7 linked regions of the Homo sapiens genome follow. The protein of the gene in region 1 purifies or fractionates together with the protein of each later gene. This does not show direct contact. Each region holds a gene or a part of one and is shown in the gene's direction. Other genes may lie near its edges.

Region 1 (4,002 bases):
AATTACCATCCTGCCTTGCTTAACAACAGTAATATTTAATTGCTTAAAGACTGTGAGTGGGATAAATGGATAGCCTTTAATCATTAAAGAAAAAATAATTGATAAAATGTCTCTCGTTTTCCTTTTCTCTCTTGTGAGTTGCTCCTTCAAACACCCATCTTTTAAAACATGAGAGATATCCAGCTTAAGACTCACCATGGGCCTCGGCTAAATCTTCATGAATTTGATGAGGTTAAGAAAGCAACTACATTTCCTAAGAAAGCAACTATTTTAAAAGAGCAAACCTGGGTGTGGGGAGGGATTAGGAGTAGAGTTTGGGATGGCAGCCTCAGAAGGACAAACTTAGGCCAAGGAGGGAGGGAGTTGGGGTGGAGACTGAGCTTCTCCAGTTGGAGGTCTGGAGCTAGGACTCTTCATTGAAACCGGAGAGAAGGAAAAGGAGAGAGTGAGGCTGACTTTTTAACTGAACTCCAAAATTCTCTGAGCAATAGAATGGGCCTAATATGTACCAGGTGGGATTTAATTTTAAATGAAAGAAAAATGTTTCAGATAGCAGGGACTGTTAAAACATTGAAATTGAATGTTGTGGATCTCCTGCTGTGTTGGTTTTCAGTATTTTTTAGAGCTTTGTTATCCAGTATTATAGTCCAATTTAGGCTAAGGAACAGAATAAATTTCCTAAGAGCTGTAATTTGTGTTTTCATGTGCTTTCCCCAAAGTATTATCAACTGCTATTTGATATCCTGTCCTTTGGGCATATTTTTGTTGTTGTTGTTGTTAATGATGGTGGTGCTTTTTTGTTTGTTTGTTTTAAGAAATGAAAAGAAAAGATTGGCAAGTCCCTGGAGAGACATTATCCCCCCACCCCCCGCCAAATTTTATCTATTGCGAACAGCAGAAATACCAGCATGTTCAGATCTAAAAGCAGTCTGTTTCTTCTCCAGGTTAAAAAAATATATACTTCTTATGACTCTGGACTTAAATTTGACTTTTTAAAAATAAGAAAAATTAAAGAAGGGTAGGAAATATTGGTCACATCTCCGCGTGATTCTAGGTCCTCACTTCTGCTACCCAGTAATTAAAATACCCTGCGTTATCCTTTAGAAATTACACGCCTGTGTCTTTAACAAACTGTAAGAGAGAAGGGGGCGGGTCTCGGGAACGGCGAAGGCTCTGATTGGCCCTCCTGGCAGGAACTGGGCGGTAAAATAGCCCTTCTGTTACTGTCCGGGGCTGCGGGGTGAGAGGCCAGGGCCGAGAAGGGCTTCAGGACGCGGGAGGCGCACTTGCTTCAAGTCGCGGGCGTGGGAACGGGGTTGCAAAACGGGGCCTCTTTGTCCGGGTGGGTTAAGGGCCCTGGCAGCTTTTTCGCGAAGGCGCCATGTCCTAGCAGTTGGGCCGCAGTGGGCCCGAGGTCCACTCGGACCGCCGAGACGGCTCGATGGCCCTGGAGCTGGAGGAAGGGGGATACCTGGGCGCCGCCGCCGCCCTCGCAACTCGGCCGAGGCCCCTATCTCAACCTAGTTTCTGTTTTTCCCCTGTTCTGCAGGCTTGCTTCCGGCGTCATGGCTCAAAGGGCCTTCCCGAATCCTTATGCTGATTATAACAAATCCCTGGCCGAAGGCTACTTTGATGCTGCCGGGAGGGTGAGTTTAGGATATGTCTGCCTGCATCCCTGCCTCTCCCCACGGTGTTCGGAAAGGTGCTCATTTTTGCCTGAGAGAGTTGAGCATCCCCCTTTAAAAAAATACATGATTCGACGATAAATACGTAAATTATTTAAAAATACATGTTAATATATACAAATTGAGCTCTAACATAATGTTAAATGTGTCATTGTTAACATTATTAATTGAAATAAACTCAATTATTGATAGTATAAATTTTAAAAATTGGCAAATATGTAGTTTACTATGTAATTGGCATTTTTTAATGTATTTTGGTTTGCTTCTTAAAAAGAGGTGAAGAATCCTAACGGTATTCACATGTGCCGTGTTACTCCTTTGTGATTATACACAAGTGCGTTCAGGGTAATGATGAGAGCAAACGGTGGTGTATGGTAAGGACGTCTTTAAACTGTTAGTGCTTAGAGAATTTGGGGACCTAGGAAACCTGAAGTTCTTTGTACCGGTGTCACTCCACAGGGCATATCCACAGCTGGAAAACAAAAAAAAAGAAACTTGTAAATTAAACTGGTTAGCATGTCACAAATCACTGTGCAAAAGAGAACCTGGATGTAAAATACTAGGGGCCTGTGTTTTCTCATGCCTCATTGGGTGAACATAATTGTTAAGAGGGAATACAGATATTTTTAAGAATACCTACTTTTGGCTGGGTGCAGTGGCTCACACCATTAATCCCGACACTTTGGGAAATCAAGGCAGGAGGATTGCTTAAGGCCACGAGTTTGAGACCAGCCTGTGCAACACAGCAGGACCTTATCTCTACTAAAATTTTTTTAAAAATTAGCCAGGTGTGGTGGAAAGCTTGTAGTCCCAGCTACTTGGGAGGCTGAGGCGGGAGAATTGCTGGAGCCTAGGAGATTCGAGGCTGTAGTGAGCTATGATTGCACCACTGCACTCTAGCCTGGGTGACAGAGACCCTGTCTCTAAAAAATAAAAAAATAAAATTTAGTTTTGAAAATGAGTTAAGTTGGAAACAAGGCACACGCTTTAAAAATTTTACCAGTTTATTTCTTTGAAACTTGTCAGCCATACAAAAGACATTTTATGTGATATAAAGGCCTTACAGATTTCATCCCTGTCAAATTAATCTGTGGGTCTGATGGTTGTTTTTTTCCTTAAAACACTTGTCACATTATAGATTAACTTGGGTCAGTAATGCAGGTAGGAGGAATCAAAGAGATGAAGAAGAGGTGTAGGGTAGAAGGCTACCAAAATGTATATGGAGTTTGAGTCAATCTGATTATTTTAAGACTAGTATTAAGCTGCCCAAACAAAGCTTTTTATAATTATCTTCAGGTCAGATGGATTCCCTTTGGCCATTTGGGCCTGCATTCTGCTTAGCTGTGCAGATTCTCAAGCTGAAGTATGTGTCTTGTCTTGCGGGAGGAGGACTTGCTGCTTCATACTGACTTGGCAAAGAGAACAGTTGAGGATTGTCCTAGTGACAGAAACCTTCAATAAAATGTACCTATTTAGACTGCCTATAAAGTAAATGCTTTTTATGAATTTAACCCTTTATTTATTTATTTATTTATTTTTATTTTTATTTTTTTAGACGGAGTCTCACCCTGAGCCCAGGCTGGAGTGCAGAGGCACAGTCTTGGCTCACTGCAACTTCTGCCTCCCAGGCCCAAGTGACTCTCATGCCCCAGCCTCCTGAGTAGCTGGGATTACAGGTGCACACCACCGCACCTGGCTAATTTTTTTTTTTTTTTGTATTTTTAGTAGAGGCAGGGTTTCACCATGTTGGCCAGGCTGGTGTCGAACTCCTGACCTCAAGTGATCCACCCATCTCAGCCTCCCAAAGTGCCGGGATTACAGGTGTGAGCCACCATGTCGGGCCAAATTTAACCCTTTGTTTCTAAGGGGAAAAATTCACAAATTTAAACCCTGACCCAAGAGTAATAATGTAGTTTATTGCCTAACGTAGTTTTTGGACAGGTCCTAGAAAGGAAGTAGCATACCAGTTCTAAAATTGTGTAATGTTGAACACGGAGGATCAAACCCTGGAGATCTGTCCTCCTTAATTTCTTAACACAAGATTTCAGTAAGGAACTGGTCTGTTTTCTGGCATCTGTCAGAAAAAAATAGAAAAGAAAAAAGGACTTTTAGAGACTTCAGATTATAGCTAGAGTTTGAATGATTTGGTGGTGTACCACAAGCAATCAATATTCTCACAGAGGTCACCTTTATTAAATGCAGAATGTGCCAAACAGAAAGTAACTTCCCTTCATAAGGCTGAGAGATTCTCATTATTCTTGATCTCTTGAAGGCCAGGCAAGATGATAAATTATATATGATCTATATACAGTAGATG
Region 2 (4,243 bases), on another chromosome or scaffold:
TACATGAGGTTTCCACTGATGCCTGGAAGAAGCAGATCAGTCTGTGTGGTAACATCAAGGGAAACTTCCATTCCTTGAGAGCCCAAGCGGTAGGAAGCGAACAGATGAAATGGCAGTCTCATTAGAATGGCTGGTGATTTGCTCATTCGACTAATTGAAGGAATTCAACAATTCAAGTCGGAGCTACAAAAGTCACAATTTTGAAGCCCACACAAGAAGGTTTCATTTGAATCTCTGCTCATTTGGAAAGGGAAAAGTCCCTAGGATTGCCCAGCATCCACAACAAAGCAGAGTCTGCTAAATTCCCATCATTTGGGAAGAGGAACTTTTTTTTTTTTTTTTTTTTTTTTTTTTTTGGCTGAACTATCCTCCAGATCTCCTGGGCGGGAGGAAAAAAAAATGGTCATCAGATATGTAGGCAGATGGGCTGTGATCACCACTGGAAGCTCGAAGTATTTGGGGAAACTGAAACTGTCTAGGGATAAAGCTGCCCTGGTTTGTGTGTTTCTGGTTTCACTGATTAAAAAAAAAATCCATCTACCAAGAGTGGATAAATTTTAAAATTCTGCCATGCCCAGTTTTCGAAGCCCCAAATGCGATATAGGAACAGCTGTGGTGTGAATTAGTTGGTCTAAGCTTTTGGGCCGCTTCCAACTTCTCTATTGCTCACGCCCTACAGGTCAAGGAAAGAAGTGATGTAATGCACTTAGCTAGGCCACTTTAATTACAATGGAATGGAGAGGGGGGAGGGGTCACAAGCGGTGACAAGTTTAGCGCATGACTTGCCCTGGGGATGCAGGAAACAAAAACATCGACGACCATTGGCTGCGTTGGCTTCCGACCCCGGGTCTCTAACCGAGCTCCAGGTCTGGAACCTTGAAACACTTTTCCTGGGAAAAGGGGTGGCGCTATCCCATAGAGCGTCAACCTTAAACACAAACAGCACACACGCACCCACGCAGGCTGGCGGCGTCCTCCCTGCTGGGATGGGCGTCGGGCCCAGTGCTTGGCACACGGTCCCCAGGAGCTTCCCCCGAAGGTTCCCCCGAAGCCAGCCACAGCTGCTCAGCTCGGCGCGCGGAGCCCGCGGTGGTACCGAGTCCGCACAAACCCGGACCCGCTCCAAGTGAGCCGCGTTGTCGTCATTCATTCGCAGTGTCCGGAGCGTCCTTCCAGCGGGGAGCTGGGCTTCCCTAGTGGCGCCTGCGGCCCCGACACGGCGCGTTAAGGCGCGGCGACTTCGGGAGCTCGAGCAGGTAGAGACGGGAGGGGCTCTGGAGCTCCAGTCGGCGCCGCGGGAGCAGCAGCGCCGGAGCCCAGCTTGGCCCTGACCGCGGGGCCGAATCCGCTCGGGTGGCCCTTAGCCCTGCCTGGCGCTGAGCCGGATCCCGGGACTGAGCTATACCACTTCCTCCTCCTCCCGCTCCCTTCCTCCTCCTCTTCCTCCTCCTCCCGCTCCTCCCGCCGCCGTGGGCCGGGAGCCGGGCTGCAGAGTGCCAGGCCGGGCGTCTGCGGCCGCGGGCTCTCGCGGGGCGGCGACGCCGCGGGGAGGATGCTGCTTGCCGCGCCCGCGTCCTCACCGTCCTCCCGGGCCGCCTGCTGGGGCTTTGTTGTGGCCCGGACGCCGCGGGCCACCCCCTGAAGTCGCCTGCCGCCGCCGCCGCCGCACCTAGCGGACGGGCGGGCGGGCGCGCGTGTGCCCAGGAGTGCGCGCCTGTCGCGGTGGTGGGTGCAGGACTGGACCCACGGGCCCATTGTGCGCCCGCCCGCGGCAGCCAGGACCATGTGGGTGAACCCGGAGGAGGTGTTGCTGGCCAACGCGCTGTGGATCACCGAGAGGGCCAACCCATACTTCATCCTGCAGCGGAGGAAGGGCCACGCCGGCGATGGAGGCGGCGGCGGCGGACTGGCGGGTAAGGACCGTGGCCGATCCCTGCAGGAGGGGAGCCGGGAGCGCTGCGGCGCCGCCCGCGGCCTGGGCTGCAGGCTCGGGAGACGCCGCCCGGTCCCCTGGGGCTGGGCGACCCGCCCTGCCTCGTTGTATGCGAGGCATCGAGAGTCGTGATGTTCAGGTTGGGCAGAGATGCTTCTTTTTTTGACTCTGTCAGGCTTGGGGCCCTCAGCGTACTGAGCGCTCTTTAAGTGGATATGTTGAGGAGAATGGGAAAGAGTGAGTCTGGGGCGGAGGGAATGTATTATCCCCTATATATTGAATGCATCATTCCCTTCCCCTCCCCCCCTTAAAAATATTGTTTTCCAAATGGAAAAGAGGGATGGAAGAAGGTTAATTTTTGCTCCACTTTCTTTACTGGCAACAGCAGGATCAGGTATAAAATGCTCTTTTGTTTCCAGGGAAGCGATAAGTAAGGAACTGATGTGGTCATTTCCTATATGAGTTATGACCGAAGAGAATGAATACGGAAACAGGAATTTTTTTGTTTCACCTAATTAGACATAAAGCAAAGCAAATTGTCTGGTTCTAGTTGTAAAAATAATTGGCTGTATAACTGCATTTTAACTATTTTTGCTCAATCACTTCTTCCCTAAACCCCCTCCCTTCAAGGTATTATTGTAATTGTTGCTGAAGCCATGTCATATCATTCAGGATAATAAGATCAGTCAGACCCATATCCAAAGTAGTGCCATATTAGAAATAATCTCGAACTCATACCATACTAGAGAAATTGGACCTTCTCCATCTCTGTGTTATTTAGAATGAACAGAACTGGAATACTTTTTACAGTGAAAAAGTTAGCAGAAGAAATAGTAGAGGTTTCACTAGAAAGGAGACTGCAAAAAAGAGATGAACTTTGACCCTCCTCAGAGTTGAGCTTATATCAACCTCATATATCACCTGGAGTTTGCACAATAGGTAAATTGTTGCTTTCAAATGCTGTGCTATGAAATAAAGATTCTTGATATATGTATTTACTTATGATTATATTTATAAACTAATTTTCTTAAGATTAAAATTCAGGTGTCATGTGGTACAATGTATACTGGTATGTTTGAAGGATCTTGATTCTACCAGAAAAGATAAATCTGCAGAGCTCCAGACCCCATTCTGGAAATACTTACTAGTGATCTGATACCAGGATTTTCCAGGTCATTTTGTAGAAGTTATCTAACTCTAAATGTTAATATGTAATTTACATATCTAATATTGGAATCAGCCCACATTGTCCTTTTTTTTTTTTTTTTTTTTTTTTTTTTTGAGACAGAGTCCTGCTTTGTCGCCCAGGCTGGAGTGCAGTGGCGTGATCTCGGCTCACTGCAACCTCCTTCTCCTGGGTTCAAGTGATTCTCCTGCCTCAGCCTCCTGAGTAGCTGGGACTACAGGCATGCACCAACCCGCCCGGCTAATTTTTTTTGTATTTTTAATAGATGGGGTTTCACCATGTTGGCCAGGCTGGTCTTGAACTCCTGATCTCAAATAATCCGCCCACTTTGGCCTCCCGAAGTGCTGGGATTAAAGGCGTGAGCCACCTCACCCGGCCCATGTAGTCCTTTAAGCCTAGGACAACAACACAGAGTAGATAATTTATTGTAGTAAAAAGAGAACATTTCCTTCTGCAATTAACCCTCCTACACCTTGTAAGCATTAAGTATTCATTTACCTGTGTCATTTGTAATAGGATGTGAAAAATTCAGGGATTCAGAGCCTTCTTTTTCTGCTTAACATTTGTATTGTGTTCCTACTGGTTCTTAGAGCTATAACTGACTACGGTCCACTTGAAATCTCATCTTGTCATCAATGACTTCTTTCACTTAGGTAAAATTACATCTTGTAAATTGAGAAATCACAGTGATTGCACTTATTAATGGAATAATTGAAATCATTGTCATGAGTAAAAGTATTTATGACAACAAAGGCTATTTTCAAGCAAGAGAGGTAAAATGTTTGGTCTAATACCTTGGTGCCATGTCAAATGTAGCAGGAACATTTTAGAAATGTTACACAATGTGTAGTATATTCTGATTCTAATGTAAGTTCATTCATTCACTAACTCACTAAATCATTTAACAAATATTTGTTGGCAACTTCTAGAAGTGCTAATGTTGTGAAGCTCAAGCCTAGTAGAAGACAGGTATTGATGAAATAATCACATAAATTAAAGTAAAATTGCCACTCTACAGAGTCCCAGCAGAAAACAGAATCCAAATGAAGAGAGATGAGTGAAAAGACAACTTCGAAAAATAGAGGCATGGTTATTTGAACTGGTGTAAGGCAAACCAGAGGCAG
Region 3 (3,500 bases), on another chromosome or scaffold:
GTTTTGTCATGTTGGTCAGGTTGGTCTCGAACTCCTGGATTCAAGTGATCCTCACGCCTCAGCATCCCAACGTGCTGGGATTACAGGCGTGAGCCACTGTGCCCAGCAGTTTCTTTATTTAAAAAGTAATTTAGAACGTGTCCGGTGGCCTAATAATTCCTATGCAGTGTGATATGGTGGAACAGTCCTGGATTTAGAGTAAGAAGGCCTGGATTCAGATACTGAGACTGTCATACTAACATTGTATCCTTGGGGAAACTTTGAGCTTCAGTTTCCTTTTCTCTCATTTTAGATAAGATTATCTTTTCTTCTCACCTCTTAATTATTGTGAGAGTTACCATTGACATAATATGTGGAGAAGTTAAAAGTTAAAAAAAAAACCCAACCTAAGCTGTTGTTATTTCTCCTTGTTCTCATTCATTTCACAAACATTGGAAACCTAACATATGTTATATACTGGTGCTAAAGCTATGAAAGATAGTACCTGCCTTTAAAGGGCTGTGTTTCAAGGAGCTCTGAAGCGCGCGCGCGCGCTCGTGTGCGCGCGCATGCGCGCACTAAGAGTAGGGTGGTAGGGTATTTGATAAGGTAGACCTGTGCTATAGAATGTAAAACCAATAAGCTTAGGGTGAGCAACAAACTCAGATGAGTTTGGGAACATATTTCCACAATTCCAGAGGAGCAATGGGGAAAGGTTCCTGGAGGAAGTTATATTTGAACAGAGTCTTAAATTATAACAAGAATCCCGAAGGGCTTTGTGTGCTACGGGAAGTGTACACATTGAATGATTTTAAGCAGTTAGACTGATCACAACTGCTTTTCGAAAGTTGCTGTTGTCTGTGATGTGTGCTCTGTGATGTGTGCTTTGTTAACTTTCTGTCTTTGTGTTTTATTATTATTTTTTTTACTCCATCAAGAAGTGTCCTCTCCTCATACCTTAATATTAACTGTTTATCTTTCAGTTTCTAGTGCAGGTCCCATTTCTTGTGTGAAGCATTCTCCAATTATTTTAGCTTCCCTACTTATTTCATTCTCTGAAACCATATTAGAAATAGTAATAGTACCACACTTTAGTCCTTATTTGTTTTATGTCCTTAAGTAGATTTTAAGTATAGAGAATGCTTCTTATGTGTGAATAGAAAGCATGTTAAAAAAATTTTGTTGCTTGATCTCTTTGTATTTTGTTTTTCAGGGTAGTAACAGATTATGGGCAACAGTCCTTTTAATTAATCTACCGTCATCATGGCTAATGAGGACTGTCCCAAGGCTGCTGATAGTCCTTTTTCATCAGATAAACATGCCCAACTCATCTTGGCCCAAATCAATAAGATGAGAAATGGACAGCATTTCTGTGATGTGCAGCTGCAAGTTGGACAGGAAAGTTTTAAAGCTCATCGGCTGGTTTTGGCTGCCAGCAGTCCTTACTTTGCAGCTTTGTTCACTGGAGGAATGAAAGAGTCCTCAAAAGATGTTGTACCGATTCTAGGAATTGAAGCAGGAATCTTTCAGATACTTCTAGATTTCATTTACACAGGTATGTTACATGAGTCTGTTGCTTTGACTGAAGAATGATTCAATCACTCATGCACTAATGTGGAAATATAAATTGATCTAACTTATCTAGAAGGTAATTTAGCAACATGTTATTATGTGACTGAAAATTCATATCTTATGACCCGGTGCTCCTTTTCTAGGAATCTGAAGGAATTAATTAGTGATGCAGGCACATATTTACAAACCAGGATTTTATTGTAACATTATTATTATTATTTTATTTTATTCTTTTTTTGAGATGGAGTCTCTCTCTGTCGCCCAAGCTGGAGTGCAGTGGGGCGATCTTGGCTCATGGCAACCTCTGCCTCCCAGGTTCAAGCGATTCTCCTGCCTCAGCCTCCTGAGTAGCTGGGACACAGGCGCATGCCACCACACCTGGCTAATTTTTTTTTTTTTTTAATTTTTAGTAGAGACAGGATTTCACTGTGTTAGCCAGGATTGTCTCGATCTCCTGACCTCATGATCCGCCCGCCTTGGCCTCCCAAAGTGCTGGGATTACAGGCGTGAGCCACTGCGCCTGGCCTGTGACTTTATTTATAGTAGTATATAATTGAATAAAATCTTGTCTCAGTAGGTTTTATGGCTAAATAAATTATGATACATGTATAGATCTCACAAATGAGATCTAACAAATCTTAAAATATATGTATACTATTATGGAAGAATGTTTACAATATATAAAATTTTAAAAATCAGGATATAAATAAACCCCTATTTTGTTTGAAACACAACCCAAAAAAACTTATATGTATTTACACATGAGAAAGCAGCCAGAATGTTTGATAGCATTTATCTGTAGGTAATTTTTTTCCACAAAGTGTTTATAATCAGCATATGTTATTTTACTCAAAACTATCTCTTAAATGTTTTTGAAGAGTTTTAATAACATTAGAGAATGTACACAGGGGCACAGTGGTTCATGCCTGTAATCCCAGCACTTCGGGAGGCCAATGTGAGAGGATTGCTTGAGGCCAGGAGCTCAAGACTATGCAGGACAACATAGCAAGACCCCATTTCTAAAACAAAAAAAATTTTGTTTGAGACAGGGTCTCTCTCTGTTGTCTAGGCTGGAGTGTGGTGGTGCACTCACACTTCAATGCAGCCTTAATCTCCTGGGCTCAAGTAGTGCTACCATCTCACCACCCTGCATAGCTGTGACTACAGGTATGTGCCACCATGCCTGACTAATGTAAAACAAATTTTTTGTAGAGACAGGGTCTCACTACATTGCCCAGGCTAAAAAAAAATTTTTTTTTTTTTTTGAGACAGAGTCTCGCTCTGTCACCAGGCTGGAGTGTAGTGGCGTGGTCTCGGCTCACTGCAACCTCCGCCTCCCAGGTTCAAGTGATTCTCCTGCCTCAGCCTCCCGAGTAGCTGGGACTACAGGCACGTGCCACCATGCCCAGCTAATTTTTATATTTTTAGTATAGACGGGGTTTCACCATGTTGGCCAGGATGGTCTCGATCTCTTGACTTCGTGATCCACCTGCCTCGGCCTCCCAAAGTACTGGGATTGCAGGCGTGAGCCACTACGCCTAGCCAAAAAAAAATTTTTTTTAATTAGCTGGGTGTGTGGCTTGTGTCTTTAGTCCCAGCTAACGGGAGGCTGATGTGGGAGGATCCAGGAGTTTGAGGCTGCAGTGAGCTATGATCAAGCTGCTGCACCCTGGACTGGGAGACAGAGTGAGACCCCATCTCTGAATAAAATAAAACAACTGGAATGATGAAGAGGGGAGTAGGGGAAGGGGAAAGAAAGAGAAGGCACACCAAAACGATGTATAGTCTTACAGGATATGCAATAAATATGCATAGAAAAAAGATTTGAAAGGCTGAGATGGGATGATCACTTGAGCCCAGGATGCTGCGGCTTCAGTGAGTGATGATCATGCTACTGCACTCCAGCCTGGGCAACAGAACAAGACACTGTCTCAAAAAGAGAGAGAGAA
Region 4 (3,500 bases), on another chromosome or scaffold:
GAATTGTGCCACTGCACTCCATTGGGCAACAGACTGGAGACAGACTGTGTCTCAAAAAAGATAAAAAAAAAAAAAAAAAAAGAAAAAGTCTGTTGAATGAAGGAATGAATTGAGAGCTGCTTCTTACTTGGGGGAACTGGGGAATCTACCTGGTCCCCGTGTATGGTTGCATGGACAGATGCTGTGAAGCTTGGCACCTTCTTCCTCTTTGTAAGTATTATTAAGATTCAGTTTTGTTACATCCGTCTTCAGAGCTATCTCAAGAAGCCTATAAAGGATGTAGATAGTGTAACTTCCTTGCAAATGTTATCTTTGGAGGCGTCTGGAGAATGCGGGTGTTATTAGATGACTTCTAAGGATCTCCCTGCTCTGTCTCTGTGTGTCTGAAAACTCTTCTGTTCAAAAAGCAACATTTCAAAGATATCTGAAAAATAACCATGATGGGATTTTGTATTTTTTTTCGAGACAGAGTCTCCCTCTGTTGCCCAGGCTGGAGTGCGGTGGTGTGATCTTGGCTCACTGCAACCTCCGTCTCCCAGGTTCAAGCAATCCTCCTGCCTCAGCCTCCCGAGTAGCTGAGATTACAGGTGCCTGCCACCAAGCCCGGCTAATATTTTTATATTTTTAGTAGAGACGGGTTTTTGCCATGTTGGCCAGGTTGGTGGGATTTTTTTATTTTAAGAAGCACATTTATTTAGGTAGTTATTGAGTACCAATCTGTACTGGGTAGTATTACCCTAGGCTGGGGGTACAAGATAATCAGGGATGGTCACTGCCTTCACAGAGCTATTAATCGGTCTGGTTCAGGACCTGGACATCAAGCTAGAGCTACAATTAAATGCAAGTGTGATGTGCAATTATTTTTCATTTATTTTTGTCTAAAATTAGATAGATGTACCTAGACTGTGCTTTAAATGGGTTGTGAAAACAGAATGTCCTGGGCCTTTTGCATTATAATTTTTAATTTCCTTTTAAAAGAACCTATGAATTAGGGATTTAGGGAGCTCATTTTTGGCATTCCTGCTAAAGTATAACTTGGGTACAGAATGTTTCTGATTTGGGTGATGGTGATTTTCCACTGCAAAGTTAACGTTTAATTTTTGGAATGGATATTTATTTATTTATTTGTTTATTTATTGTTTCAATAGAGACCGTGTGTCAGTATGTTGACCAGACTGTTCTCAAACTCCTAGCCTCAAGTGATACTCCAGCCTCTGCCTCCCAAAGTGCTAGGATTATAGGCATGAGCCACCGTGCATGGCCTAGAATGGCATCTTAAACCTCAACAATAGGCAAAGGCTATCTGTTTGCATAATAATTCTTCACCTTATTTAATACCTACTGTGTGCAGACACTGTGCTTAGGTGCTGGGTATAATGATAGTGTCAACACAGAGCTCTAGCTACTTGTAAGGCACTATGCTGAATGCTTGAAATTCTCATTTAGTCCACAATGGCCCTGTGAGGGAGATAGCATGATCCAGGTTTACACACGAGCAAACTGAGGTACAGGGAGTTTTAAGTAACCTGCCGAAAACCAGTTAGGTATAGCTAATGTGGCAGAGCCAGAATTCAAGCCCAGGTGATTTGGTGCTAATAATGCTACATGCTTAAACAACCACACTGTGTCGACTGGTGCTAACTGGGAGCACTACACCCTGATGTCAGAAGAGTCAAATAGATAACTGGTGAATACTGTTAATGTTACTCTTTTAGGTTTGATTTGTCTGTTTAAAACATAAAGGTTACTGTTTTATTGCCATAACCCACATCTTAACCATTGCAGTTTGTTTCAGAGAAGATGCAATTTATCCTGAGGGAGAATGGAAAAGTCCAAACTTTGGTAGATTATGAGAGTAGGGTTCGATGTTAGTGAAGTTTTCAAGGATGGCATGTCAAAACCAGACTTCCTCAGGAACTGCTTCATGTGGATATACTGATGAGCCTCAGAGCATCATGTGATGGTGACCAGGGAGTGACCTCAAGGTGAATAGAGTGGGGCTTTTCTTTGTGTGTGTGTTTGTTTTCGTCTCTTGCAGTTTTGTAAAACGTTACCTTTCATACTCCAGTCTTTGGGCTGGCCTCAGCTTCTAGGTTTAAAAACCAATACTGTTTCTTTTTTTTTTTTTTTTTTTTTTGAGACAGAGTCTCACTCTGTCACCCAGGCTGGAGTGCAGTGGCGCCATCTCGGCTCACTGCAACCTCCGCCTCCCGGGTTCAAGTGAGCCTCCAGTCTCAGCCTTCTGAGTAGCTGGGATTACAGGCATGCGCCACCATGCCCAGCTAGTTTTTGTATTTTTAGTAGAGATGGGGTTTCACAGTGTTGGCCAGGCTGGTCTTGAACTCTTGACCTCAGGTGATCCACCTGCCTCGGCCTCCCAAAGTACTGGGATTACAGGCATGAGCCGTCGCACCTGGCACAATCCTGTTTCTTGATGTATTCTTTTAAAAAATGTTTAAAATAAGAGATGGGGTCTTGCTGTGTTGCCTAGGCTGGTCTTGAACTCCTGGGCTCAAGCAGTTCTCCCTCTGTGGCCTCCCAAGTGGCTGGGACTATAGGCTGTAGTCAATGTGCCAGGCTCTTGTTCTTTAGGTTAAAAAAAATTAAGTAGAAATAGTGAAGTATTTGATAATTTTGTTAATTTAGAGTGACTTTTTTGTCCCGAATTTCTACGTCTGGAGTTTCTCTTAGTAGTTTCCTGAAAAATAGAACTGGAATCTCTTTAGCTGTAAACAAGATAAACAGTTTAAGGAATCTATGGGTCACAAGTGAGAAGTGACCTAATACACCTTACAAAGTCCCCATATTTCTTTTATTGAGATAGAGGCCTTTAAATTTTGCCTTTAAGTTAAAAAAGTCAATTCCTAGTGAAAAAACAAAAACAAAAAACTAAAACATAAGGCAGTGTATTCTTCATTAGGTGGCATATGAAAATTTGACTCTAGCTCTTAGCTCAGGTGGTAAGAGAATTTAAAAATTTTTAGATTTCTGCAGGGAATTTCCCAACTGGAGTTAACTTGAGGTTTCTTTAAACAATAAAATTGATTTGTGTAATTTTAAGTTAATGTGGGTTTTATGTCTGAATCTAATTTTTTTCTCTTTAATATTTAATACTTAACATACATATGTTACTTTAGATTTCATAGAGTGCTTTTCTAACATAATCTCTTTTAATTCTCCCAGGAATCCATTGTGCTAGGCATTATCATTCTCATTTCATGGATGAGAAAACTAAGGCTCAGAAAACACAAGTAACTTGCTTATTATACCTCAGAGCTAGTAAGAGTTGAGGTCAAGACTCAAATGCAGAACTTCTGATTACAAGTTTTTTACCCTTTGCTTTACACCAACGGTCCCGGACCTTTTTGGCACCAGGGACTGAAGTGGTTTTGTGGAGGACAGTTTTTCCACAGACTGGGGTAGGGGTGGGTGTTTCAACAAGGTATTTCTGGCTTATCTTATAATTTCCCTTTCCCAGCACCAAAGTCAGCCAGTTCTCC
Region 5 (3,500 bases), on another chromosome or scaffold:
CCTCTGCCCTCCTGCAGGGTGCCCAGTCCTCTGCACACTCCTTATTAGGAGTCTGCATAAAGATTGGGTCCCTCCGCATCACCCAGCTGTGGGAAGGAGGCTCCCTCTGCCTGGGCGTGGTCTGGACTGTTGTCCTCTGTCCTTTGCAGATACCTGGATAATGTGGTCAACAAGCAGAGTGTCTCTCCTCCTATCCCGCACCTCCGTGCCTTGCTGAGCAGCAGCGATGACCCCCCTGCAGAGGTGGACATCTTTGAGCTCCTGAAAGTGTCCTATGAGGTCAGCACCCAGTGGGGCCATTTTGGCCAGGCCGCTCCATCTGGCATGTGGGTTGGGGTGGCTATGGGCAGGTGGTGGCCCTCTGCCCTGCAGTTGGCTTGATCTCACCAAGTCACCTCTCCCTATAGAAATTCAGCAGCCTGAGGGCCGAAGACATTGAGCAGATGCGGTTTAAACAGAGGCTGAAAGTGATCCAGTCCTTGGAGGACACGGCCAAGAGGAGTGTGGTATGGGTGCCAGCAGGGCTGGGCAGGGGCTGGGCTGGGGGGGCAGCAGTGCCTTCCCCACAGAGCAGGGTGGGTACAGGGCTCCACCGCACCCAGTCTCCTACACTGCTTTGGTATGTACATCATGGTAGGATTCATGGGACCGGGATCCAGGGGTGTAGGTGGGAATGTGGGGAGAGGTTCCAGTCACTTTTCTCTGCTGGTGGATGTGTCACCGGGAAGCTTCTCAGATGGCTCCCACCCTGAAAGCCACATGCCCAGCCCTCTGGGCCGAGCCCGCCCAGCCTGGCTTCCCATGTGTTCCCTGCCCCACTCCCAGGTAGCAACATGCCGCCATCCTCCGCACACCCCAAATGGCATGTGTCTGCCACAAGCTGCTGTTCTCATCTCTAGAGGGGCCAGGCCCTCCCTGCCACCCTGTGCTGCAAGACCTGTTTGTGGTCTCTGCCCCCAAAGGCAGGGACTTCCTCCATTGTTTCCACATTCCCAGCCCTCCTGCAGGCTTGTAGGACACTGTAAGGACATTGGGTCGCAGCACCACAGACTGACTGCTTTGGCCAATTAAAGTACAGGAGCATTGGCTGGCAGGTTCTCGGCCTCCTTCCACAGAGCTGGCACCAGGGTCTCTGCAGGGATCCAGATGACGGGAGCCAAATGAGTATCCCTCACTCTGCGACCTCAGCTGCACGTTGAGGACAGAGGCTCCCCCACGCCCATCCTGGGAAGGGGCCCGGAGTGTGAGAGAGAGGCTCCCCCACGCCCATCCTGGGAAGGGGCCCGGAGTGTGAGAGAGAGGCTCCCCCACGCCCATCCTGGGAAGGGGCCCGGAGTGTGAGAGAGAGGCTCCCCCACGCCCATCCTGGGAAGGGGCCCGGAGTGTGAGAGAGAGGCTCCCCCACGCCCATCCTGGGAAGGGGCCCGGAGTGTGAGAGAGAGGCTCCCCCACGCCCATCCTGGGAAGGGGCCCGGAGTGTGAGAGAGAGACTCCCCCACGCCCATCCTGGGAAGGGGCCCGGAGTGTGAGAGAGAGGCTCCCCCAAGCCCATCCTGGGAAGGGGCCCGGAGTGTGAGAGAGAGGCTCCCCCACGCCCATCCTGGGAAGGGGCCCGGAGTGTGAGAGAGAGACTCCCCCACGCCCATCCTGGAAAGGAGCCCGGAGTGTGAGCTGAGTGGTAGGTGGGGGGCCAGGGATGGGCTGTGGGCCTCGCTCTCTCCCGAAGGGTCCGCCCTTGAGTGCTGGGCCACTGAGAGGGCGGTTCACACCCTTGCCCTTGTCTGCCGAGGATGCTCTCACAGAGTGCCGTACTTCTGTGCCAGGAGCTTGTGATCCAGCTATATACCCTGTTTCTCCTTCCTTCTAGGTCCGAGCTATACCTGTGGACATTGGTTTCTCCATTGAAGAGCTGGAGGACCTTTACATGGTGTTTAAGGTGACAGCTCAGAGCCAGGGCAGGACCCGTTCCTAGCTTCCTAGCTTCCTGCCAGAAAAGAAATGGATCTAAGAGTATCCTCTTAGAAGTAGATAGAAATAGGGAATAGAATAGAAAAACAGAAACAGATCTAAGTGCATCCTCAGATGCAGTTGCCATGAACCTCCTGTGGTAGAATCGAATCCCTCTTGGAGTTTAGGCAGGACCTCTTAAATGGCAGCAAATCCATTCAAGTCATCTTACACAGAAGAGGGAATACATTGCCCCTGTATTGCTAGACTGAAAAGTCTAGCAATGCACAGCTTCAGGCATGGCTGGATCCAGGTGCTGAAATGTGCCGTCAGGCTTCCCCATCTCTGATGTCCTCTGCACTGCTCTTCCTACACCATGCCAGGACTGTCGTCACAGCTCCAGGGTCATACTCTCTTCTCAGTAATCCCAGTGCAAAGAGAATTTTTCTTTCCCTTGTGCTTTTAGCAAAAGACCCAGCCTTAATGGTTGGAATCTGCCTTTCTGTTGTTGTTGCCAGTTCCCGTCCACCTCTCCAGCTGCCTCAGGTTCCGTGCTCAAGGTGGCTGCTGCGCTGTGGCCCTAGCGTCACAACAGTTGAGCCAGCTCTGCCTGCCTCCTAGAGAGGTCATAGGAGCGAGAGCAAGCCTCAGGCCTCTTGTTTCCCTGGAGCCCTGCCAGGAAGGCTCAGCCCTTCTCTGGGGCCAGCAGACCAGCTCTGCCCCCTGCAGGCTGCCAAGGACTCTGTCTCTCAGCCAACCCCCTCCCCATCTGTTAACAAGGGGCTGATGACAGCCTGAGAGCTTTCGGGAGGTGCTGCAGTGTCTGGCCCGTGCTTACCGCCCCAGGGCTCCGCAGGCTTGGACAGAGGGGGAGGGTGGACACACCACCAGCCTAGGGGTCCCCTCGACCCACAGGCTTAGCGGCTGGACCGTCTCACCAGACCGTGTCCCACAGGCCAAGCACCTGGCTAGCCAGTACTGGGGGTGCAGCCGCACAATGGCCGGCCGTCGGGACCCCAGCCTGCCCTACCTGGAGCAGTACCGGATTGATGCCAGCCAGTTCCGGGAACTCTTTGCCAGCCTGACACCCTGGGCCTGTGGCTCCCACACACCTCTGCTGGCAGGGCGCATGTTCAGGCTCCTGGACGAAAACAAGGACTCGCTGATCAACTTCAAGGAGTTCGTGACAGGGATGAGTGAGTGCCTGCAGGGCCTACCAGGGGCTTGACCCTCCCTCACCCTTTCCCAGGAAGCCTCCAAATGCCAGCATCTCCTGTCTGTTCCCCCTGCAGCAAGTAGGGGGCAGCTTGAGCCCCTGGCCCTAGATACGGGAAGAACAGTTTACCCACGGGAGCCGAGATGGGGTCCAGCAGGAGCCTTGCCCGCTCCCCTCCCTCATGCAGTCTGGGGCTGCTAGAAGCTGGTCTGCCAGCCCCAGGGAAGGGCTGAGCCTTCCCAGCAGGACGCCAGGGAGACAGGAGATCTGGGACTCACCCTGTGACCTCTCCAGGAGGGAGTTGGGCAGCACAGGCTGTGAAGAGGGTCCTACTCGG
Region 6 (3,500 bases), on another chromosome or scaffold:
TATCACTAAATAAGATTTTAGCTCCAGATGCTGAAATTGGTAGATGTGGGGCTATTAAAAAAAAACAAACAACAAAAGGTGTGTTACATATGGATACCATTCATGTGGGTGCATTTAAATCAGTTCCCTTCTTAAATACTAAATGAACAGTAAAACCCTGATTTACTGGAACATAATCAGAAATTTTTCTATGCTCTATTTGTATTAATGAGGAAAGCACAATTAAATAATTTATGTTGGGAAAATAGGAAAAACAAAACCACAGGTTAGCTAAACCTTTAACCTTATTGTCTCTAGGCAGTACAGTGCTGTGATTGAGATGGTTTAGGATGATGACTGGCATTGGAATCATCTCTATCCTGAAAGATTAATTTGGTCACCATTTCTGGCTAAAGGGTAATAGTGCATTTTAGAAATAAATTTTGGCAATGATTGATACACAAGAAAAGGTTTAACTCTTAGTAAACCAGAAAAATCAGTTAACCAGAACACCCATTTGTGAACATGCTTAATTGAACATTTACTGTAAAAAGAAAAATAAGTGATTAAGTGTGTTAATGTAACTATACTATTTGAGAATTCCATGGTATTTCATTGTTTGCGTATTTTTGATGAAATTTGTGAAAGACCTCCTGAAAATGGTGTTGATGAGTTAAGATCAAAGGACAAAATTATTGCATCAGTTTTGCATGTGGGTAGTTGATAATTTTCAGATTTTTTTTCACCTGAAAAAACAAAAAAGCTTAATCTTGATTGGGGGAGGGTGTTTATTCTTAACTGTGAAAGAAAAGTGAGTCCATTTTCTTAAATTTGTTTTTGTAGGCTGTCAAGAGAAAATAAGAGCTGTACTTTTGATACCTACATAAAATACATAAAATATTTTAGAATGGCATATAAGGTGATTCTTATTAAAAATATAGATCCATGTGTTTATATTTATACATATAAAATGAGTCATACCATAGTAAGTATTTGGGCTTCACAGTGCAAGAGGGAGCAGTTTGTAATAGGCATGGCGATTGCTTACTGTCCTTAACCTGAGCCTCTGGTTAAGGCTACACCCTGGACATGCCTAGGATTCCTTATTAGTTTATTCTCACTAGTTTATTCCCTTTTGGATCATGTTTATGTTTTTCATTGGTAAATTTTTATTTTTATTTTATTTATTTATTTTTTTGAGATGAAGTCTCACTCTGTCTCAACCAGGTTGGAGTGCAGTGGCGCAATCTCAGCATCTCAGCTCACTTGCAACTTCCACCTCCCAGGTTCAAGCGATTCTCCTGTCTCAGCCTCCCGAGTAGCTGGGACTACAGGCGTGTGCCACCACACCCAGCTAGTTTTTGTATTTTTGGTAGAGACGGGGTTTCACCATGTTGGCTAGCCTGGTCTTGAACTCTTGACCTCAGGTGATCCACCCACCTTGGCCTCCCAAAGTGCTGGGATTACAGGTGTGAGCCACTGCGCCTGGCCTTTCATTGGTAGCTTCTGTTGGGGTGAACTATTCTATAAATTTATTACTTATTACAATAATTTTAAAAATTGATTTTAAAGTTAACTCCTTTAAAGAAGTATCCCTTTATTCTAATGTCCCAAGTGTGAGGAATTGTCTCGTATTCATTCTGTCCACATTTTTCTATCATGTTTTTTAGACCGATCATGTCTCAGTCTTTATATCCAGGATGAAGTGTCTCAGTTTCAAAGTGTGCACATCTTCCTTCTGCATTTTTTCTTGCTCTTCAGGGTCCATTGAATCTGTATCAATATTTCAGTTGTAGTATACCTTCCTTTTTAAATTACCTGAGTCAGTTGTCTGAAATTGGATAAAAGTAGTATTTTTATCCTTGTTTTGGTTTTTTTGTGCATTGAAAACCATATATATGTTTGTATACTAAAATAGAAGACTTAAGGATGTGATCGCTATTTTTGTTTGTTTTGTTAAATAGATGGTTAATGTGAGCTTCTAGCTCTGTGTGTGTGTGTGTGTTAAACCATGTATTATAATAAACTTTCACTCTCCCCTACTAGAAGAAAGGCATGGTAATGTAATCTTTTTGCAGCTATTTCTCTTTTCTAGCTTTGTTTAAAAGTAATGTGTATTCCCTGAATGGATATCCATTGACAGAATATTGGTGATACAATGGTTGTTGATATTGGACCTCAACAGAAAGCCTTAGCCGCTACACACACTCAGTGTTAACTCACAGGCAGATGGTTGAAGTGTTGCTTTTAATTAATAATCTAGAGCTCCTTTTAGAAGCATTTCCTGATCAAAGCAGTTAATCTTTGTTAGTGAAGATATCAATCTAGAATTATAAGTGAGATTTTCATATTTAGCTAGTGTTCCTGGGGATTTTTTTTCTTTGTTATTTTGGATGAGGTGACCATGTGATCATTTTGCAGGTGAAGACAATTTGGATTGTTGAGTTCTTACTCATCAAAACACTGTGAAATGTATATGAGTCCATTATAACTGTAAATTTTTTTTGCTATGAACCAACTTTTTTTTTTTTAGTTTTAATACTTCTGACTTACTTGTTAGTATTAGGAAAAGTTGTCTCGTATTGGTTAAATTTAAGATATAGTCTCTGAGTAATAATATAATTAATTATATAACATGTTATATATTCTCACTAGTTTATTTCCTTTCAGATCACATTTATTGAAATAGAATTGAAGTGGTTGTTACATAATGATAAATAAACAAACAATAATAATATTTGTAATACTAATGGATACTTCTCTTTCTTTTCCCATTCACCTTGAATCAGAAGAAGCTCATTCACACAGAAGACCCATTTAATGATGAACATCAGGAGAGGCAAGAGGTGGAAATGTTGGCTAAGAAGTTTGAAATGAAATATGTGAGTATAATAAACTGATCACTTAGGTAATTTTATCCTATTGACCTGTTTGCTTTCTGTGGCTGGTTGGGAGGGCCTATAAATATCCGTTGCCTGCCTTACTTTGTTCTCACCAATGGAAACCAAATGAATGGTTAGACAGTCAAATAAAGATTCCAACAGGCTTGTGATAGTTAAAGTAGCCATCATTCATTTTTATTTTTATTTATTTATTTTGGAAACAGGGTCTCGCTCTGGTGCCCAGGTTGGAGTGCCGTGGTGCAGTGTTGGCTCACTGCAACCTCCGCCTCCCAGGTTCAAGCCTTTCTCATGCCTCAGCCTCCCAAGTAGCTGTGACTACAGGGGCAACACCACACCCAGCTAATTTTTTGTATTTTTGGTAGAGACGGGGTTTCACCATGTTGGCCAGGCTGGTCGTGAACTCCTGACCTCAAGTGATCCATCCTGCCAAGTAGCCATCATTTATTATAGTCTTTCTAGAGTCTGGGCGGTTTGCTTTACATATATTATCTCCAATCTTTGTAACAAAACCACAAGCTAAGTAATATTGACCATATTTTACAGATGAGGAAACTGAGGCTCTGAGTTCAAGATTAAGTAGCTGATACAGTGTCACACAGTGGCAAGAGTAGGCTACAG
Region 7 (3,500 bases), on another chromosome or scaffold:
TGGGACTGCAGGCTCACACCATCACGCCTGGCTAATTTTTTTTTTTGAGACATAGTCTTGCTCTGTTGCCCAGGCTGGAGTGTGGTGGTGCAATCTCAGCTCACTTTAACCTCTGCCTGGGTTCAGGCAATTCTCATGCCTCAGCCTCCTGGGTAGCTGGGACTACAGGTGTGTACAACCATGCCCAGCTAATTTTCTTTTCTTTTTGTTTTTTTTTTGAGATGGAGTCGTGCTCTGTCACCCAGGCTGGAGTGCAGTGGTGCAATCTCGGCTCACTGTAAGCTCTGCCTCCCTGGTTCACGCCATTCTCCTGCCTCAGCCTCCTGAGTAGCTAGGACTATAAGCACCCACCACCATGCTCCGCTAATTTTTTGTATTTTAGTAGGGATGGGGTTTTACCATGTTGGACAGGCTGGTCTAGAACTCCTGACCTCAGGTGATTCGCCCGCCTCAGCCCCCAAAGTACTGGGATAACAGGCGTGAGCCACTGTGTCTGGCCTTCAGCCTATTTTTGTGTTTGTATTTTTATTATTATTATTTTTTTTGAGACGGAGTCTCGCTCTGTTACCCAGGCTGGAGTGCACTGGCATGATGTTGGCTCACTGCAGGCTCCGCCTCCTGGGTTCATGTCATTCTCCCACCTCATCCTCCTGAGTAGCTGGGACTACAGGCGCCCGCCACCACGCCCGGCTAATTTTTTTGTATTTTTAGTAGAGACGGGGTTTCACCGTGTTAGTTAGCCAAGATGGTCTCGATCTCCTGACCTCATGATCCTCTCACCTCGGCCTCCCAAAGTGTTGGGATTACAGGCGTGAGCCACCGTGCCCGGCCCCTTATTTTTGTATTTTTAGTAGAGACGGGGTTTTGCCATGTTGGCCAGGCTGGTTTTGAATTCTTGACCTCAGGTGATCCGCCCACTTTGACCTCGTTTATCACTTTTGATGCTTGCGTCACCCTTGTGGGAGATAGATTGGAATGTTGCTGTTTTATAAATGAGAAAAAGGAATTTAGGAGACTTTAAGTAACTTGACCAAGGTCACACATTTGATAAATAGCAGAGCTAGGATTTTCACAGAGGTTCAGTGAAATCCCTATTCCTGTGCTTCTAATTAGACATTGAGCTCCGTTTAGGAAACAGAGATTTGATGGCAAATGCCATTTATTGAACACCGTGTCAGATAAGGGTATTAAGTGCCAGATAAATAGTATCTCAGTTTATCTTCACAAAATCCTTTGAGATAGATTGCATTTCCATTTTGCAGATTGGAAAACTGAGGTTTAGGGAGGTGGTATGACATGCCTAAGGGCACAGCTTTAATGAGTAGAGCTGGGATTAGAACTCAAGTTTGGGCCAGGTGCGGTGGCTCACGCCTGTAATCCCAGCACTTTGGGAGGCCGAGGTGGGCAGATCACCTGAGGTCAGGAATTCCAGACCAGCCTGGCCAACATGGAGAAACCCTGTCTTTACTACAAATACAAAAATTAGCCGGGCGTGGTGGTGGACACCTGTAATCCCAGCTACTCTCCGGAGGCTGAGGCAGGAGAATCGCTTGAACCCGGGAGGCGGAGGTTGCAGTGAGCCGAGATGGCACCACTGTACTCCAGCCTCGGTGACAGAACGAGACTATCTCAAAAAAAAAAAAAAAAAACTCAAGTTTGGCTGGCTCTGAAATCCATCCAGTTAACTTCTTTACTCTCCCAGCACAGGCTGAATGTGGTGTCTCCCATTTTGTAAGTCCCCAGGGGTGCCCAGCTTACCCAGCTCCTAAGAAGCAGCAAATCTGGAATAGGAATGATATACCCAGGTAACTAAGTGAAGGCAAAATGTGAATATACTCTATGAAAACAAGTGAAAAGGCTCTGGGAAGTAAGGCAGGGAGAGGTCTCACTTTTACTTTAAGAGCACCCAGGAAGTCTTTTCATCCCTTGCCAAGGCTTGGCTGGCACTGACCAACCCTGAATCCCCTGGCATCTGGAAGTGAAGGTACCCGCATCAGTGAGCCATCCTTGGGTTCTGGCCCAACCAGGGAAACTTGGACCCACCTTGGACAACTTCTTAGGGAGCCCCTGCTAGGTTATAAGTCCTTTCTCAAGACCCTTCTTGACCAGAAGGTCAAGTTCAAACTTTATCTCCCATACCCATCTCTATCTCTTCCCTCCCACATGTCACCCTACTCCATCCTGTACCAGCCAGACTCAACTTTTTGTTTCATGTAAGTTTTGGTTTTGTTCAGATTATACAATTAATGCAGGTTTATTATAGAATACAGAAACATTCAAAGAACAGGGAAAAAATATATCCTCACTTTCGGCCGGGCGCGGTGGCTCACGCCTGTAATCCCAGCAGTTTGGGAGGCCGAGGCGGGCGGATCACGAGGTCAGGAGATCGAGACCATCCTGGCTAAAACGGTGAAACCCCGTCTCTACTAAAAACTACAAAAAATTAGCCGGGCGTAGTGGCGGGCGCCTGTAGTCCCAGCTACTTGGGAGGCTGAGGCAGGAGAATGGCGTGAACCCGGGAGGCGGAGCTTGCAGTGAGCCGAGATCCCGCCACTGCACTCCAGCCTGGGCAACAGAGCGAGACTCCGTCTCAAAAAAAAAAAAAAAAAAAAAAAATCCTCACTTTCATATAACCCCAGGGATATAACTACTATTACTTTCAGGGCATTTTATTTCTAACACAGTCTTTTTTTTTTTTTTTCTGAGAAACAGTCTCGCTCTGTAGCCCAGGCTGGAGTGCAGTGGCAAGATCTCGCTCACTGCTACCTCCGCCTCCTGGGTCCCAGTTCAAGCAATTATGCCTCAGCCTTCCGAGCAGCTGGGATTACAGGCATGCGCTACCATGCCCAACTAATTTTTGTATTTTTAGTAGAGACGGGGTTTACCATGTTGGCCAGGCTGTTCTTGAACTCCTGAACTCCTGACCTCACGATCCGCCCGCCTTGGCCTCCCAAAGTGCTGGGATTACAGGCGTGAGCCACCGCGCCCAGCCTAGTCTTTTTTTTTTTCCTGAACATAGCTGAGTTCATTTTGTTTTGTTTGTTTTTTGAAACGGAGTTTCGCTCTTGTTGCCCAGGGATTAGTGCAATGCCACGATCTCGGCTCACTGCAACCTCTGCCTCCCAGGTTCAAGCAATTCTCCTGTCTCAGCCTCCCTAATAGCTGGGATTACAGGCATCCACCACCACACCCGGCTAATTTTTGTATTTTTAGTTAGAGACAGGGTTTCATCATATTGGACAGGCTGGTCTCAAACTCTTGACCTCAGGTGATCCTCAGGCCTCAGCCTCCCAAAGTGCTGGGATTACAGGTGTGAGCCACTACTCCCAGCCCATTTTGTTTTTAATTGGGATTATATTATAGATCTTTTAAAAGCTGCTATATAACCTGATATATTGAGAACATTTTACTTCAAATAGTTAAAAACACACAATCACCCATTATCCTACCAGCTAGAGAGAACTGCTATAGCATTTGGTTTCTATGTTTCTAGACCTTGT

Evidence for each region.
Region 2: the proteins of LANCL1 (region 1) and TBC1D9 purify together in Homo sapiens (affinity purification with mass spectrometry; 3 studies listed by BioGRID and IntAct, with this or other methods). This does not show direct contact.
Region 3: the proteins of LANCL1 (region 1) and IPP purify together in Homo sapiens (affinity purification with mass spectrometry; 3 studies listed by BioGRID and IntAct, with this or other methods). This does not show direct contact.
Region 4: the proteins of LANCL1 (region 1) and DERA purify together in Homo sapiens (affinity purification with mass spectrometry; 3 studies listed by BioGRID and IntAct, with this or other methods). This does not show direct contact.
Region 5: the proteins of LANCL1 (region 1) and TBC1D9B purify together in Homo sapiens (affinity purification with mass spectrometry; 3 studies listed by BioGRID and IntAct, with this or other methods). This does not show direct contact.
Region 6: the proteins of LANCL1 (region 1) and UBN2 purify together in Homo sapiens (affinity purification with mass spectrometry; 3 studies listed by BioGRID and IntAct, with this or other methods). This does not show direct contact.
Region 7: the proteins of LANCL1 (region 1) and RANGAP1 purify together in Homo sapiens (affinity purification with mass spectrometry, with the first as the bait; one large-scale study listed by BioGRID). This does not show direct contact.

What each region holds. Positions count from the first base shown.
Region 1 is NC_000002.12:210,473,960-210,477,961, reverse strand, and holds the start of LANCL1 (glutathione S-transferase LANCL1), read left to right. Parts: upstream 1-1,202; 5' UTR 1,203-1,342; intron 1,343-1,549; coding exon of another isoform or gene 1,550-1,565; coding exon 1,566-1,646; intron 1,647-4,002. UniProt on the Homo sapiens protein: Functions as a glutathione transferase. Catalyzes conjugation of the glutathione (GSH) to artificial substrates 1-chloro-2,4-dinitrobenzene (CDNB) and p-nitrophenyl acetate.
Region 2 is NC_000004.12:140,753,586-140,757,828, reverse strand, and holds the start of TBC1D9 (TBC1 domain family member 9), read left to right. Parts: upstream 1-1,443; 5' UTR 1,444-1,783; coding exon 1,784-1,913; intron 1,914-4,243. UniProt on the Homo sapiens protein: May act as a GTPase-activating protein for Rab family protein(s).
Region 3 is NC_000001.11:45,744,154-45,747,653, reverse strand, and holds part of IPP (actin-binding protein IPP), read left to right. Parts: intron 1-1,192; 5' UTR 1,193-1,242; coding exon 1,243-1,534; intron 1,535-3,500. UniProt on the Homo sapiens protein: May play a role in organizing the actin cytoskeleton.
Region 4 is NC_000012.12:15,914,332-15,917,831, forward strand, and holds part of DERA (deoxyribose-phosphate aldolase), read left to right. Parts: exon of another isoform or gene 1-1,985; intron 1,986-3,500. UniProt on the Homo sapiens protein: Catalyzes a reversible aldol reaction between acetaldehyde and D-glyceraldehyde 3-phosphate to generate 2-deoxy-D-ribose 5-phosphate. Participates in stress granule (SG) assembly.
Region 5 is NC_000005.10:179,869,898-179,873,397, reverse strand, and holds part of TBC1D9B (TBC1 domain family member 9B), read left to right. Parts: intron 1-149; coding exon 150-279; intron 280-407; coding exon 408-506; intron 507-1,867; coding exon 1,868-1,936; intron 1,937-2,902; coding exon 2,903-3,143; intron 3,144-3,500. UniProt on the Homo sapiens protein: May act as a GTPase-activating protein for Rab family protein(s).
Region 6 is NC_000007.14:139,234,237-139,237,736, forward strand, and holds part of UBN2 (ubinuclein-2), read left to right. Parts: intron 1-2,768; coding exon 2,769-2,861; intron 2,862-3,500.
Region 7 is NC_000022.11:41,276,188-41,279,687, reverse strand, and holds part of RANGAP1 (ran GTPase-activating protein 1), read left to right. Parts: intron 1-1,670; exon of another isoform or gene 1,671-1,792; coding exon of another isoform or gene 1,793-1,805; intron 1,806-3,500. UniProt on the Homo sapiens protein: GTPase activator for RAN. Converts cytoplasmic GTP-bound RAN to GDP-bound RAN, which is essential for RAN-mediated nuclear import and export. Mediates dissociation of cargo from nuclear export complexes containing XPO1, RAN and RANBP2 after nuclear export.